Linked DNA regions of Homo sapiens: region 1 is linked to region 2. The links come from fine-mapping of genetic effects on gene expression. Tissue or cell type: cerebellar hemisphere. Region 2 holds a variant in brackets; the other region holds the start of a gene. All regions are shown on one strand. Distances are from middle to middle.

Evidence for each region. PIP is the estimated chance that this variant, and not a neighbour inherited with it, causes the effect.
Region 1: SBF2 starts here. The variant in region 2 is fine-mapped to the expression of SBF2 in cerebellar hemisphere (GTEx, PIP above 0.99).

The regions. Positions count from the first base shown.
Region 1 is chr11:10,289,458-10,297,636 of GRCh38, reverse strand. SBF2 (SET binding factor 2) reads left to right here and starts at 3,418. Exons shown (of 40, transcript NM_030962.4): 1 at 3,418-3,622. The coding sequence starts at 3,568. RefSeq lists silencers at 3,281-3,330, 3,451-3,730, 3,761-3,840, 3,881-4,020.
Region 2 is chr11:10,347,041-10,355,219 of GRCh38, reverse strand. All of the region lies in intron 2 of CAND1.11 (a long non-coding RNA gene), which reads right to left. Among named protein-coding and RNA genes, the nearest start is that of CAND1.11, 43 kb to the right of the region's middle. RefSeq lists enhancers at 700-1,230, 1,231-1,762, 2,294-2,825, 2,826-3,356, 2,067-4,023. The variant G/C (reference allele first, on the strand shown) is at 3,212.

The DNA.
Region 1 (8,179 bases), 58 kb after region 2:
AAAATTAAAATAATTTAAATGAGTACTTGCAAATGAAATAAAAGCCAAGACATTTAAAAGGTAAAACAAGACCCCTTACCACTACAAAATTAACTCAAAATGGGTCAAAGTACTAAAGAGCTAAAACTATGAAGGAAACCAGTAAATCTTCATCTCACCTTTAATATGGCAATAATTTTTTAGATATAACACTAAAAGCATAGAAACAAACTAAAAAAGTGGACTTTATCAAAATTAAAAACTTTTTTGAGCCAAAGGACATTATCAAGAAAATGAAGTCTGGGTGTGGAAGCTCATGCCTCTAATCCTAGTACCTTGGGAGGGCTAGGTGGGAGGATTGCCTGAGGACAGGAGGTTAAGACCAGCCTGGGCAACATCATGATACAACATCTCTACATAAAAATAAAATGAAAAATAAAATAAAAATAGGAAATATTTGGGGGGGGGAATAGGGCATAACAATTTTAAAAAGAAAATGAAAAGACAACGTACAGAATGGGAAAATATCTGCAAATCATATATCTGACAAGGACTAGTATCCAGAATATATAAAGAACTCTTACAACTCAACCTCAAAAAGACAAAGAATCAATTAAAAAATGGGCAAAGGACTTGAATAGACATTTCTCCAAAGAAGATTTAGCAATGGCCAATAAACACATGAAAAGATCCTCAACATCATTAGTCTTTAGGGAAAGGCAAAACAGGACCACAATGAGATATCACTTCACACTAAGATAGCTATAACAAAACATAAACAACAGGAAAACAAGAGTTGACAAAGATGCAGAGAAATCAGAACCCTAGTGCATTGCTGGTGAAAATGTAAAATGATGCAGCCACTGTGGAAAACAGTAGTAACAGAACTACTTAATCCAGTAATTCCAATCCCAAGAATATATCCCCAAAATTGAAAACAGGTACTCAAATACATGTACATGCATGTTTGAAGCAGCACTATTCACAATGCCAAAAGGTGGAAACAACCCATATGTCCATATGGGTTGTTCCAGATAAACAAAATATGGTATATACATATGATATGGTTTGGCTGTGTCCTCACCCAAATTTCATCTTGAATTGTACCCCATAATTCCCACCTGTCATGGGAGGGATCCGGTGGAAGGTAATTGAATCATGGGGGCGGGTCTTTCTCCTGCTGTTGTGGTGATAGTGAATAAGTTTTATGAGATTTGATGGTATAAAGGAGAGTTCTGCATAAGCTCTCTTGTCTGCCGCTTTGCTCTCCTTGCCTTCCGCCATGTGGAACTGTGAGTCAATTAAACCTCTTCTCTTTATAAATTACCTAGTCTCGGGTATGTCTTTATTAGCACCGTGAGAACAGTCTAACACAATATACAATGGAATATTATTGAGTCATAAAAAATAATGAAGTATTGATACTTCAATGTGATGCTACAACCTTGTACTGTATCTGCCCGTAAACAAGCTGAGAACAATATACTAAGTGAGAAAAACCAAGACACAAAAAACCCACATATTGTATGATATGAATATGAAATATTCATAATAGGTAAATCCATAGAGACAGAAAGCAAAATGGTGATTGCCAGGGGCTGTGGGAGGGGAGAATGAGAATGACTGCTTAATGGTTGTGAGGTTTTCTTTTGGGTGATGAAAATGTTTTGTAACTAGATAGACATGGTAGTTGTACAGCATTGGGAATGTACTTAATTGCCACTGAATTCTACATTTTCAAGTGGCTAATTTTACAATATGTGAATTTTGCCCTATTTTTAGAAAAGTTGGGAAGGAATATGATAGCTGCCTTAAAAATCTATCATATGAAGATAGATTTTTTTTTTCTGGATAGTTCCGGAGAGCAGAATCAGGGGAAGTTACAGTAAGACAACTCTGAAATAATAAGGAAGAACTTTCTAACAATAGGGCTGTTAAACAGTGGAATGCGCTGCCTCCCAAGGAAGTAAGATTACTTTTTACTGAAAGTGATCAAGTTGGATGATGAGCTCTCAGGGAAGTTACAGAGAGGATTGCTGCACGGGGTATGACTGAGGTTTTTTTTTTTTTGGTTTAATTATTTTCAGGATCAAACTATCTTCCCTCCACGTTTGCAAATTCAGCTGATTCAGTTTTACCATTAGCAACTGACATAGAGGTCCTGGAGTTAAAGTATTCCTTCAGTTTCAGTTCTAGTGCAGCCCAACCCTCCCAATTTGTAGATGAAACAAGTGTGGCAGAGAAAGGGGAAATAGTAAATTACAGCAGAGTAAATCTTCAGGAGCTGAGATGTCAACTCTCTCAGTTCAGAGTTGGAGCCATTGCGGCTTCCTGCTGGTCGTTGGGGAAAATCGCACATTTACTCATTTAAAATATTTTGTAGGCACCTACTATATACTAGACGCTTTGCTAAGAGGCCTTGTCTTATGTGTAAATATGAAGGATCAAACCCTCAATTAATAGTGAGCAGTGATAAGCAACCACAAAGACAACTTCTAAACCACGGAGATTTCCAAAACTTTGGTCTACCACTTGTACAAATTCTACTAAAACTTCGTGAGATATTAACAAATGACAAAGTGAGTTCACCTGAATGTCACACCAGCCAAATTCGAAATGGTCAATAGGAGGTTCAACAAAAAAGCAAGCGACTTTGATAATCCCGAGACGGAAGGACGGGACCATCTATTCATTTTTGTGCATGTTTGAGCAGGGAAGTTGGAAGTCCACCTGCTCGGGCTGCGAGAGCCCTGGGACCGCTGCGAGGGAAGCAAGCCGAGGCGTGCGGGGCTCCCCAGGGAGAGGCCAGCCCAGTTCGGGAGGATCCCGGGGATGCCGCGTTCCTCGGTGGAATCTGGCTCTCCCGGGCGCTCCGGGGGAAGCCCAGGCCGACCGCCCCCGGCCCACCCGGCATTGAAACCCGAGGCTCCTTGGAGGATTGCGTAAAAGCCTCTCCCTCCCCCGTCTGCTCGGTGGCATGTTTCTAAAATTCCCATCTACACAACATAAACAGGAAACGTGCAGCAAAAGCCCTGTCGATGCAAATTCCTTGCTTCCAACCGAGGGCGGGAGAATTTCATCTTTGGTGGTGGTGGGGAGCAGAGGAAGCAGCCAGCTTTCCAAGTGACCCCTCAACTCTCCACATCCCTTCTTCCAAATCCAAACAGAATAGAGAAGGCGGAAGGAAGGACCCCCTGCTTTAGGAAAAATAGGGAGGCAGAGGGGGCCGTGAAGCAGCATCCAGGCCTCAAAGTGAACCACCTCCAGGGGCCGCGGTGGCGGCGCGTGGCGGGAACACGCCCGACCGCCCACTCCCCCAGCGCAGCAGTCCGCGAGGCCCGCGGAGGGTGGAGGTGGGCTCGCCGCCCGGGCTTGGGGCAGCCGAGCCAGCGCGGGTGGGGGCGGGGGAGGAGCGGGCACTAGGCGCCGCGCAAGCGCAGAGCGCGCCTCGGTTGTCAAACATGGCTGAAGCGCTGCCGCTGCCGCTACTGCCGCTGCAGGGAAAATGCTGAGCCCTCCCGGGCCGGGTGGGCGGCGGCGGCGAGGGCGGCGACGGGGACCCGCTTCCCGAGCGCGGCGGCGGCGGCCATGGCCCGGCTGGCTGACTACTTCATCGTGGTAGGCTATGACCACGAGAAGCCAGGTAAGGGTGTGGGGCGGCACCGCCCCCGGGCCTCCCCGCCCCCCGGCCGCTGTCCAGTGGGCTCCGCGGGGCCGGGCGTCGGGGACGGGCGTCGGGGAGGGCCAGGCCGAGTCTCGGAGGAGCGGGCGGTCGGCGTCCGGCCTTCTCGGCTGGGCTGAGCCTGGCGGTGGGCGTGGGGGGGCCGGCACGACGGTAGGGGGAGGGAAGACGCCGCGTCTGCCCAGCCCCTGGGCGCACCCGCTGGGCGGGCCGGAGGCGAGTTGGGGTCTCGCGACCCTCCCGCTGGAGGCTGCAGGGTACCCGGGGCAGAGAGAGCCCTGAGATTGGGCCCAGGACCGCAAGGCTGGGAGGGCGGGAGCCAACTGTGCTAAGTTCCTCGGGGATAAACTTCTGCCCTGCATCCTGAGTGAGTAACCAGTGACGCAGGGGGTTGTCCTCTCCGAAAGGAAGTGCTGAGAGTCCAGTGCTAACTCACCCCTGTGCTGTTGGGGGCCTAGTGACCTCCCCAAGGAACGCGTGGTACCAGGGAAGGGGACAGGATTCTTTGCACTTTTACCCCTTTCTAGGAAATGCTCCCTATTCTTTCAGGACAAATGTGACGGTCACTTCACAGTGACATGACTTGTCTTTTAACTAAGGACAGCCAGCTGACCGCTGAAGGTGATCTTGTTTCACTTTAATGTGTTTTCATTGTTCTTTTTATTTGTCACAGAATTTTCGTCGTAAGGAACAATTGGGCAAATGCATTGTATTTTACACTTTAATTGACGGACTTCCACAACTTAAGAGAATTCAGGGTTCATGCACGTTTATTTCTGTATTTGTATTCTCTTGTATTACTATGTAGCTAAGCATAATGTAATAACAAATTGAGCTGGGAAACCACTTCTATTTTAGGGCAATTCTAGTCCCACATTTGCAAGGAATTTGAGATATCAGCTCTACAGCCCCTTCATTTTTCAGAGATGCTGAGATTGTGTTTTCCTGATGGTTACAGCCATTGGTAGCTCAGAATACCATTGTTCTACCCACTCTTGGTCCACTCTCTCTTTCATTATTCCTCTCCTAAGAACTTCCTCTCCTTTAGTGGGAACCTTTCATGTTCTTTTCTCTTTCACCAGTCATGACCTGATTGAGGTCAATTGTTAAAGAGAAAGTTTAAATGTTTAAACTTCTGGATCCAAAATTTTATTTCCTAGTAATTTGGCATAGTCTGATGTTTCTTTTCTATCAAGATTAAGTGTGGGAAATCAGTTTTTTAACCTTTAGTTTTTAGTGACATTGTTCCGCCTCCCCCCCTCCCCACTTTTAAACAATTTTTTTTTTTTTTTTTTTTGAGACGGAGTTTTGCTCTGTTGCCCACGCTGGAGTGCAGTGGTGCGATCTTGGCTCACTGCAACCTCTGTCTCCCGGGTTGAAGCAATTCTCTGCCTCAGCCTCCGGAGTAGCTGGGATTTACAGGCGCCCGCCAACACGCCCGCTAATTTTTGTATTTGTAGTAGAGACGGGATTTCACCATCCTGGCCAGGCTGGTCTTGAACTCCTGATCTCGTGATCCACCGGCCTCGGCCTCCCAAAGTGCTGGGATTACAGGCTTGAGCCACCACGCCCGGCCAACAATGTTGAAACAATAACAGACTTGCAAAAAAGTTGCAAGAATGGTACAAAAAATTCTACCCGCCCCCCAACAATTTGAGAGGAAGCTGTTGACCTGATGCCCTGTCATCCCAGAATACTTTAATGTGCATTTTCTGCAAACAAGAATGTTCTCCTACATGATCACAGTGTAATAACCAAAACAGGAAATGGATAGTGATACAGTACTCCATCTAGTTCTCAGACTGGTTCAAGTTTTGTTGATTGTGCTAGTAATCTCTTTACTGGCAAAAGGATCCAGTTTAGCAATATGTGTTGCATTCATGTTATGTCTCTTTTGTCTCCCTCAATCTGGAACATTTCCTTTATCTTCTCCTGACTTTCATGACCTTAACATATTTAACAATTACAGGTCAGTCACTTTGTAGGCTGCCCCCTCAATTTGGGATTGTCTGTTCCTTCATGATTAGATACATACGAATATGCACGTGGGAAGGATATCACAGAAGTGATGCTCACTGCATCCTGTCAGGTGGTGCACAATTTCACTTTGTTTCATTGTTGGTTATTTTTACTTTGATTACTTGATATAAGTAATATCTGCGAGGCTTCTCCACTGTAAAGTTAATACTTAATTGTTTTTGCCATGTACTTTGAAACTATGTAAATATCTTGTTCCTCACTAAACTCTTAATCATTTATTGACATCTACATGGAGTCTGTGTGTGTGTGTGTGTGTGTGTGTGTGTGTGTGTGTGTGTTTAGTGGATTATATTCTGTTACTATTTGCCTTAGTCTATTCGGAAAAAGTCACTAGCCCACCTGCCCGAAGCACTGGCTTGAGTGGGAAATAGGAGAGTCTAAGCACATCCAGCCGAAGTGAGACCAGAAAGGGGAGCTCGCGGATTATATTCTGTTACTATTTGCCTTAGTCCATTCGGGCTGTTATAACAAAAATACCTCAAACTGGGTGGCTTATAAACAATAGAAATTTATTTTTCACAGTCTGGAGGCAGAGAAATCCAAGATGAAGACTCTGACAGATTCAGTGTCTGGTGAGGACATGCTTCCTCATAGCCATGTTCTCACTTTAACCTCATATGGCTTAAGGGTCAAATGAGCTCTCTGGGGTCTCTTTAAAAAGGGAACTAATCCCATTCACAAGGACTCCACCACCATGACCTGATCACTTCCTAAAGGCCTCACCTCATAATACCATCACTTTGGGTGTTAGGATTTTAACATACGAATTTTGGGAGGGGACATACACATTCAGACTATAGCATTATTTATTTTGATGTTCAAATTGTTCTTTATATGGCCAATGAGAGTTGTACAAGCTGGCTTCTGTGTTCTTATGGTACATCCCCATCACTCTTTGAGAACAACTTTGTACTTTTTGGCACAAGAACCTGTTCCTGGCTCATCTTGTACTTTCCATGCCTTGGTTCTGTAATCAGCCATTTAGGGATCCCTGGTTCCTTTTAGTGGAGAATGACATTTAGAAGCTAAGATCTCAAGGCTAGTGTGTTTATTGCTGTTGGGCTGTTACTCCTTCCAGGTCCTGTTAATGGTCAGGGCTGGTAAGTATAGGTATGTATGCATAAACATACATATGCATTTATATCTATATTTATTTATTATCTCTGTATATTGAAAACTATGAATTCATACTGATACCTCCAATTTCAGTCAAATAGTCCAGGATCTATTCTAGTGTTCTCCTTTTTCATATTGTAACGTTCTTCTCTGACAGTGAGAAATCTGGCTTCTGTTATCCTGAATGTATTTACTTATTGTTCAGTCTCCCATCTTCACTACCATCTACTCCTCTCCCTGCTGGGACTTGGATTCTTCATTCCATCTCCTCCATCCCCCTACCCCAGTCTGGATCTAAGAGTCCATACCAGCATGCTTCCATACAGGGACACCCTCCCCAGCACTCTGGTTATGACTCCTCATGTTGGTCTCCCCACTGTCGGTGGACACACTTCGTACCCCACTCAGACTCTGACACACCCCAGTGAGTTGCTTCCATTGGAAGATATCCTTCTCACTCTGTTGTACCCCAGTGCCCTTTGCCAGTTTCCCCCTCCTGCCTTAATGCTTGGGCTCTGAAGCAAAATGTTTGCCTCTTCCCCTACCACACAGACTCCTTCCCTAGCTCTCTTGGTCTATGACAATATGACAAGCTCCACCCCAGGGATCCACCTCCACCCCAGGGGTACCATGACAACTGCTCTTCTCACAGCAGGAAAAGGGAAGGAGAAGGAAGATTAATTTTTTAAGTAATACAATCCAGAAGCTTGTATAAATTGTAGAATGTCAACAGTGAAATGTATAACTTTTTAACTTGGGATAATTCTTCTTTTGTCATGTTGATGGCAGCGAAGAGGTGCGGGCGGTGGTGTCAGGAGCGGCTATGGGAGCAGCAATGATGCTGGTGGGTCCCCTGTGCCCTGCATCCCTGAGGCAGCCGACTGTACTGCCCCCGCCCTTGTGCCTCTGGGCAGGACCTGCCCTCAGGCCCGGAGCCTCCCCAGCTCCTGACCCTGGCCCTGTGTCACCACTCTTGCCCACCAATGCTGCGGGGAGGGTGTGAGGAGGAGGCGGAGCTGGAGGTGTGATATGGGGGTCTGGGGCCGGAAGTGGGAGCAGTGCCTGCTTCAGGGACCCAGCCAGCAGCGTGGTCACCACACCCACCCTGCCGAGGGCACCGGGTTCCTGTGCCTCAGGGGTAGGCTCTGAGCAGGGCCGCCTAGGGCCGCATCCCTGGGGTCCACCCTGCATCAGGGTGATTGCCAGGCCTGACACTCCCAAGGGCTGGGCCCAGGGCCCACAGTCTGCTCCTGGAGGCACCCCCCTAGGCAGGGCCACAAGCTGGGTGAGGGGGAGCTCGTAGAGATGTTACCTCTGCCCTAGATACTGGCCTGGGCCCAGCGAGGACCTGGAGCCCCTGCT
Region 2 (8,179 bases):
TGGGGGATCTAATGGACACTCGGGCGGGGCTGACTCCAGTGGTATTTCCAGTACCCCATAAACTCACAGAACTTCTGAACACGAAGGAATCTCAAAGATCGATCAATTAAATTTATACTGGAAATGTAGCTACGATCATAGCTATGAATTGAATTTATTTATTTAGTGAGATCTGACTATAATAGTATGTCCTTTATAGCTGAATGAAGTAGACATTAGTGTCTAATAGAACTCAAGTATGTCAGACTTCACCAGTTTGTAAACTCATGCTTCTATTTAATGCACCATCATTGTAGCTTGAGCCTCATCCTACTTGACTTCGTGAAATCAGGATTTTATCCAATTCCGCTGGGGAACACTTACGTGGTCCACCCATTTCCTCTGTACTTTTCATCTCTGCCAGCTGCCTGGCCCCACATGGGGGACTCCTATGTCTGAACACCTGCTTCCTTCAGGGTACAACTTTCCTAACTCCACTGTTGTGCCCCAGCATGGGCTGTACAGACTCCTCCACCATTTCCCTGTTGTGATAAAGCAGACTAGGCTGAAACTTTTAACAAGACATTACCAAAGGCTTGGAGAGAAAAGAGAATTACAACAGAGAGAAACTTGAAACTCAGTACCTTTGCCCAGATTCCCCAGTCTCTGGGTTTGACTTCTACATTGCTCTCTACTGCTGCCATGGAGGAAGGGCCAGCCTGCCTCCCCACAGTGGGAAGATACTTCATTCTACAAATCCTTGAGGTTCAGATCAAGGAGGCAGTTATTTCCCTCACACTTCAACCTAAGCTCCATGTCCTTAGTCTTTATTTCCTGCCTTAGGATTGATCGTGTTCCAGGAGGCCTGAGAATTAATGTGTCTATTTCGTGGAAAACTCCAACTTCTAAACAATAACATAACAAGCATTCTAACCATAGAACACTGTGTGTGATAATAACAGCCCAGTCAATGCTGAGTCCCATAAAGCCCAGTTAAGTTCTTTTCCCCATTCTCTCCTCTAGCATGAGTCTATGATCATGGTTATACAGTTGTCTAGCCATCTTCAGTGTCTCAGCTCTTGAGTTTCTATGATTGTCTAGTTGGAAAATGGCTTATTCGGCCTGGCATAGTGGCTCACGCTTGTAATCCCAGCACTTTGGGAGGCTAAAGTGGGCCAATTGCTTGAGCCCAGGAGTTCAAGACCAGCCTGGGCAACATGGCAAAACCTCATCTCTACAAAAAATACAAAAATTAGCTAGTCATGGTGCCCCTATAGTCCCAGCTACTCAGGAAGCTGAGGTGAGAGGATCGCTTGAGCCCAGGAGATTGAGGCTGCGGTAAGCAGAGATCATGCCACTGCACTCCAGCCAGGGCAACAGAACAAGACTCTGTCTCAGAAAAAAAGAAAAATGGCTTATCCGTTAAAAAATTTTCAAGAGCAAGCAATAATAAAGTGACAAATGGCATTGTAAATACATAGGAAATTTTAGGCTGGGCATGGTGGCTCTCACCTATAAAGCCAGCATTTTGGGAGGCTGACGTGGGAGGATCATTTGAGCCCAGGAGTTTGAGACCAGCCTGGGCAACATAGTGAGACTCCATCTCTGCAAAAAAATAAAAATAAAAAAAATAGCCAGGCATGGTGGCACATAACTATACACCTAGCTACTCAGGAGACTGAGATGGGAGGACTGCTTGCGCCCAGGAGGTCAAGGCTGCAGTGAGCCATGATTGTGTCACTGCACTCCAGCTTGGGTGACAGAGCCGGACCCTATCTGAAAAGAAAAGAAAAGAAAAGAAAAGAAAAGAAAAGAAAAGAAAAGAAAAGAAAAGAAAAGAAAAGAAAAAGAAAAAGAAAAAGGAAAGAAAAAGAAAAGAAAAGGAAAGAAAAAGAAAAAAGAAAAGAAAAAGAAAAGAAAAGGAGGGAAGGCAGAGAAGGGAAGGAGACAGACAAAGAAAAAGAAAGAGAAAGAAAGATAAAATGCTCCAAATAAAACCTTTTGAAGAGATCAACTCTGCCTAATATGTTGACATTTTACACAATTTTGCCAAACATTTTAGTTATTGGAGTCATAGTAGCAGAACTTCCCCCATCCCAAGGTAAGATTTTTTTCTCTATATTTGCATACGGCCTATAAGAAGCATTTTCTGAGACGTTTCCTCTTTTTAGAAACACAAAAATGTGTACGGATTACAAATGACAGTTCTTTTTCAGTCTCTACTTACTTCTCAAGTGATCCAAAAATATTTGGGTCTAATCTCAGCCAAGTTCACCTTGTTATATCCACTTTATGGACAAAGGAAGCTGAGGTTCTATGAAATCCAATTTACTGAATTACACAATTAGAAAATGGGGCTGGGAATGGTGGCTCATGCCTTTGGGAGGCCAAGGAGGGAGAATCACTTGAGCCCAGGAGTTAGAGATCAGCCTGGGTAACACAGGGAGACCCCATCTCTATAAAATATAATAATAATAATTAAAAAAATAAAACAATAGAAAATGGGAAGGCTGAAATTCAGAACACCAGCTGCCCTGGACGCTCTGGCCCTTGCAACTATACCAGGCCACACTTGATCTAAAAGGAAATGTTACATATCACAAAAACATGCGTTGTGAAGACCAGCCAAGCATACAACAAATCAGTCCCATTCAGTTTGGGATTACAAGCCGGACGAACAATAGAGCAGGCTTCAAAATAAACTTCCGTTTCCAGGATGAGAAGGAAACATAGGGACATAAGCTCTTAGGAGACACCTGCAGTGAGCAGGGACCTGCGCCAGAGAAAGGGTATAAAGCGGAGCCTGAAAAGAGGGGACTCCGAGGAAGACACCGCATTCATTCTTCCATCCCACAAACTTTCGCCAAGTGAGTCCTTTGTGCCCGGCTTTGTGCTTGGCTTTGTGCTACGCAGCAGGCACAGGCTGATGAATCAGTTAGAGGCGCCTGCCCCCTTGGGCCTCACAATCTGATAGAAGGGACAAACAAGTAAATATAGAACCTGCATTCCTCTCATTCAAGTGAAAAGGACATCCTGATTAAAATATCTATGGCAGCTCTGAGAACATTCGTGCCCAATCACAGTAAGGGCCTGAACTGATTGTCATTTCCTTTGTTTAACCAATTCTCTTACACCTGGAGTAGAATCCCTGGGGCCAGCCCGGCTGGGTACCCAACGTGATCCCTCCAGATCTCTGGAGCAGCTCGCCTTCCTCATAATCATTTTACCCTGG[G/C]ATGTTTCAGCCTTTGAGGTACAATGTGTGACTAAGGCCACTGTCAACAGGCAATGACACAAAGCATCTGTCGTCTGGCAAAGACCAGCTGAGCAAATGCTTAACTCAGAAGGCTGCTACAGTTTTTGTGAAAACAAATTACATCAGCGCCTAACCCGGGAGTCTCCCAACCAGGCTAAAGGGTGTTTTCTTTGGTGAGCGTGTGTGCTCCTACCTCACACAGCATGAAGGAACTCTGCCTAGAGTGAAGTGGCACAAAGTCTCCATATCTCAGAGCTTGGTGATACCATCAAGAAGACTCCTTGCAAAATCGGCTTAGCAAGGAGGCAGACATTCTGAGACTTCCCGGCATGCAAAGAGCCCCGTGCTGTGGGAAGGGACACACACGAGGTCAGCCAAGGTCATGGGCTCCCAAGGAAATATTTACTGATTAGCTTCCGTGGGCCAGGTGCTGGGTGGAGATTTAACTTACCTTATCTCATTTAATTATACCCCAAGTATGCTCAGCCCCATGGCCTTACTCTGGACCTGCCTTAAGGCCAGCACTTCACAAAGATACCTTTAAAGCAATAGTGAATAATGCAGATTCTACCACTGACTCCATGGGGACATAGAAGGGACATTTATATTGCAGACCACAGGTAAATATTAATCTTCAAGAGATCTATTGTACAACACGGTGACTATAGTTAATAACAATGTCTTGCATTCTTGAATATTGCTAAGAGAGTAGATTTCAAGTGTTCCCACCACAAAAAAAAAGTACATGAGGTAACGCATATGTTAATTAACTCAATTTAGCCACTCCACAATGTATACAAATTTCAAAAATCATGTTGTACACAATAAATACATACAATTTTATTTGTCAATTAAATACATAGATAAATTTGAAAAAAATACTTAGTTTAACACCTCCATTGTCTTCTCCCTTCTCTCCCTTTCCATTCTCTCTAACTTCCCTGTGACAGTTTCCTCTCTCTCTCTTTCTCTCTCTCCCTATTTCTCTCTCTGCCTCCCCATATACACAGCTTCTTCAAAATCCCCTCCACGTCTTCCCCTGTCACTTGCCTAACCCCGCACACAAAAGCCTAATCATAGCCAAAAGGCAAGAATATCCAATTACTCCTTAAGCAAAATCCTTGTGAGCCTCAGTTTGTCTCATTCATTCATTTAACAAATAGTTGTCAAGTGCCCAGCACTGTTTTGGGTGCAGGAGATTAGCAGTGAACATGATAGACAAAAATATCTGCCCTCATGTAGCTTCCATAATCCTTATAGCAATCCATTTTTACATATTAAAAAAACAGAGGTTTGGACTCAATTTATCCAACAGAGTCAGACACTTGGGGCCCAGGGGCAAATTCCAGCCCAGAGAAAGCATTTAGCAGGACCCAATGAGGGCTTCAGGGGCCCAGTCAGCACTCTGGAATCTGGTGGTGAGACTGGGTGCCTAGAGCCTGGAGAATGAGGGGAAGGGACTCAAGTGTCATGTTACAAGGACAGCCCTTGGAAACAAATACATTGGGTTCAAGTTCAAGCTTAGCTACTTACTTGGACTAGTTACTTAATTCTCTCCAAGTCTTAGTTTTCTCATCTATAAAATGGGGACAAAAATTAAACTTACCTTAAAGACTGTGATTACATGTATACACACTGTGTATATATATACACAGACACAATCATTAAATTCTCAGAACCCTATGTTGTGCTAAACATCATATATGTGTATGTGGTCTAACAGAGTAAATGCTGTAAATATTAGTTACCACTTATTTATTTATATTTGTAATTATTATTAGGTATAAAAATGGGTCTACTTAGTAATAGAGCCCCATAATTTGTCAGCCCAGCTCCCTTCTTTTTCTGGGAACAGACTTTCTCACAATCACCTCCCCACCCATCCCCAACCTCCTGATCAACCAACTCTATCCATGACGTCTCCATGGAAGCCACATGTTGGTACAATATGACCTCTCCCCCAGGCACTTGAAGCAAGCTTGACATATCAGAGTCCTTTCCCAGAAAGCTTGCCACTGGAATAGGAAAGAAATTAGTCTCCAGGTAGCTAAAGCTGTTACTACTAGCAGCCATGTTTTCAGCCACATGAACTGAGGAGCAGAAATCAGTCTGCAGTAAGAACAAAGAATGAAATTGGTGTGCAAATAGATAGAAGTGGAGACAGGATATGGGGAGCTGTACCAGCATTTGAGGGCTGGTTCCACTTCATTGAGTTCCAAGAGACAATTCTGTAAGTAAATACCTCATTTTTCTCAAGCTGGTTTGATTTAGGACATTATGCCTTGCCATTAATGAGTCTTAACTAACTACAGGTCTAATCCAGCAGACTTGGCCTTGATATATGGGTCATACCAGCCTCTAAGAGAACTTCTCTGAAGAGAAATTCAATTTCTCCTTAATAGTCAGGATCAGTTATCCCAAGCCAGTTTAGTAGCCCTCTCTTTTTCCTGTTGATTCACTGGCATGATGAGCCCATGTGGCCAGGTGGTCATCTTCACTTCCAGGTTAATGATACAGTTGCTGTGCTCCCTGGAGGAAATATTATTCCTCTGAAAACCAAGACTTCTAAACCAGCAGAGCCTAAAGTTCTAGAGATAGGAAGATAAAATTTCATAGTGGATGACTAAATTTAATAATAAGAAGAAACTCTCTCATTTCCACTCCTTCATTCCTGAACCCAGAAAAATTGGCTATAGGAGAAACAGCAACATATGTTGGTCACTAATTTAGGACATACGCTACATACTAGGGGACACTGCCCCAGCTCTACAAGGTGTTTCCACCCAGCTGGCCCTGTAACTATGCCTTCAAAAGGTCATTCTACCACTTTATCAGGACAGCTGCTTCGAGGTAATGGGGTATTTTGCAAGACTAGTGAATTCCATGAGCGTGAGCCCATTACCACACTTCATTTGCTGTGAGTTCCCTGGTCAAAAGCAATGCTCTGTGAAACACCATGTGAATAACACATTCTGTAAATCCCTGGATGGTGGTTTTGGAAGAAGCATTGTGAGCAGGAAAAACAAATCTTTATCCAGAGTAAGTGTCTATTCATTCCAGTGAGAACAAAGTTCTGTCCCTTCCATGATGAAAGTGATCCTTTATAATCAACTTTTCACCAGGTGGCTAAACTGGTACTCCCAGGGAATGGTGCCAAATAAATGCTGTGTTGATGTCTGCTGTTGGCAGGTTGGACACTCAGCAGCGGTGATTCAAAGTCCATGTTGCTGAGCCCCCAGATAGCCCTATGGACCATTTTATGTGGCTTCCATAGAACAAAAAAGGGGAACCTGGGGAAAGAGGGTAACAAATGTTCACAAAACCAGCAATCTCATCCACCTACTTATTAAGATCTTCTTCTGATAAGATTGCTGTTTGGTGAGCATTCACATGGGATATACTATCTTCCCATTCCGTGCAAATTCGTAACATTCTACCTACAAACCTCTTTCTCAGCTCTCCCTGCCACCAGGTTTTTAATCATGATCCTTTTAAGGTTTGACCATCCAGCCAAACCATTAGCCGCTACCCTAAGTCAATATAGATTCATACTGTCCACTGGGAAGATTTTCCTTCACCCTGTCTTTCAAGGCCATGCTGTGGTGGAACTGCAACGGTACAACCACCTACTTTTGGGTAGTGCCAGCATATTGGACAGAACCATCTTTAAACAAGGCCTGGAATTTTTCCTCTTCAACCAACTTGTTACAGGGAACTACCCAAAAAGACACAGATGCAGGTTGAGAGGGAAGAGAAATTAATTAACATAGATTTCAAATTGATACAGATAATAATAATAGATAACATTTACTTAATATGTAATGTGTACCAGACACAGTTCTAGATGCTTTACATGTATTATCTCCTTAATTCTCACAATAACATTCCCATTTTATAGATGACAAAGTGAGGCACAGAGATTTAGTAACCTGCTCCAAATCACATAGTCATTAGGTGGCAGAGTTGGGATTAGAACCCATACCTTCTCATTCTAAAACCTGTCATGCAATTCTGCCTCCCATGATAAAACAAATTTGCATATGTTTTTGCAAGTTACACTGTAAACTCCCAAAATTAATACTTTGATTGCCATAGGAATCCTAACCCTGGAGCTGTGTCTTTTCAACAGAGGGTTATTTTAATACACATTTTTAGATATGATAACAGGTGCAATAGGGCTGCTGGAAATGTTATGATGTGCCAATTTCAACGGCTCTTAGATCTCAATGTGATTTTCAACTTAAAATGAAACAACACAGGACAAAAAATATGATGCTTGTTATTCAAAGATAATGTCTCTTCAACAGAAACTACCTTCAAACAACTGAAACTTAAGGCAAGAACTCAAAGAAGAGAACTTCACTACAAAAAAATTGAGAGTTTCCACATGTTGAAGCCCAGAAACATCATTTTCAACATCCTCTGTCTCTCACAGTTAAATAATCATAGACAAAAAGTTGTATACACGGTTTAAAACACCTGAAGTGGAAAATTAAACTGTATCAATGAAATATTATTTTCCTGATATTTCAGACTACAAAAGGCAGGCTGGAAGTTATAGTTTGGATGCTAAAACATTGATATTTTCCAGGTGTTCTGGTGGCTTATGGAGATAGAAAACTTGAAGTCAGCACTGTCCTGGTTTTTCTAACTTATATGGCAATGTCACCTCTCTGGCCTCACTTGAATAGCCCCTGGAAGGATTTTTGTAATAGAAAACTAATATGCATTTGTAGATGCAGAGAAGAAATTTTGAAGAAAGAGGTACAGCAATCTGAGGATTATGATTCTGCTAGGGATGGGAGTAGAGATGAAGCTGGTTGGAAATGGGAGAACTTACGTGCTTCAATTTTTTGAATATAGCTTCAAAACATGTATTAATTACAAATGTATCCAGCTGGGAATAACAAAAAATATTAAAAACCAAAACAGGTGGTTTAAACCACT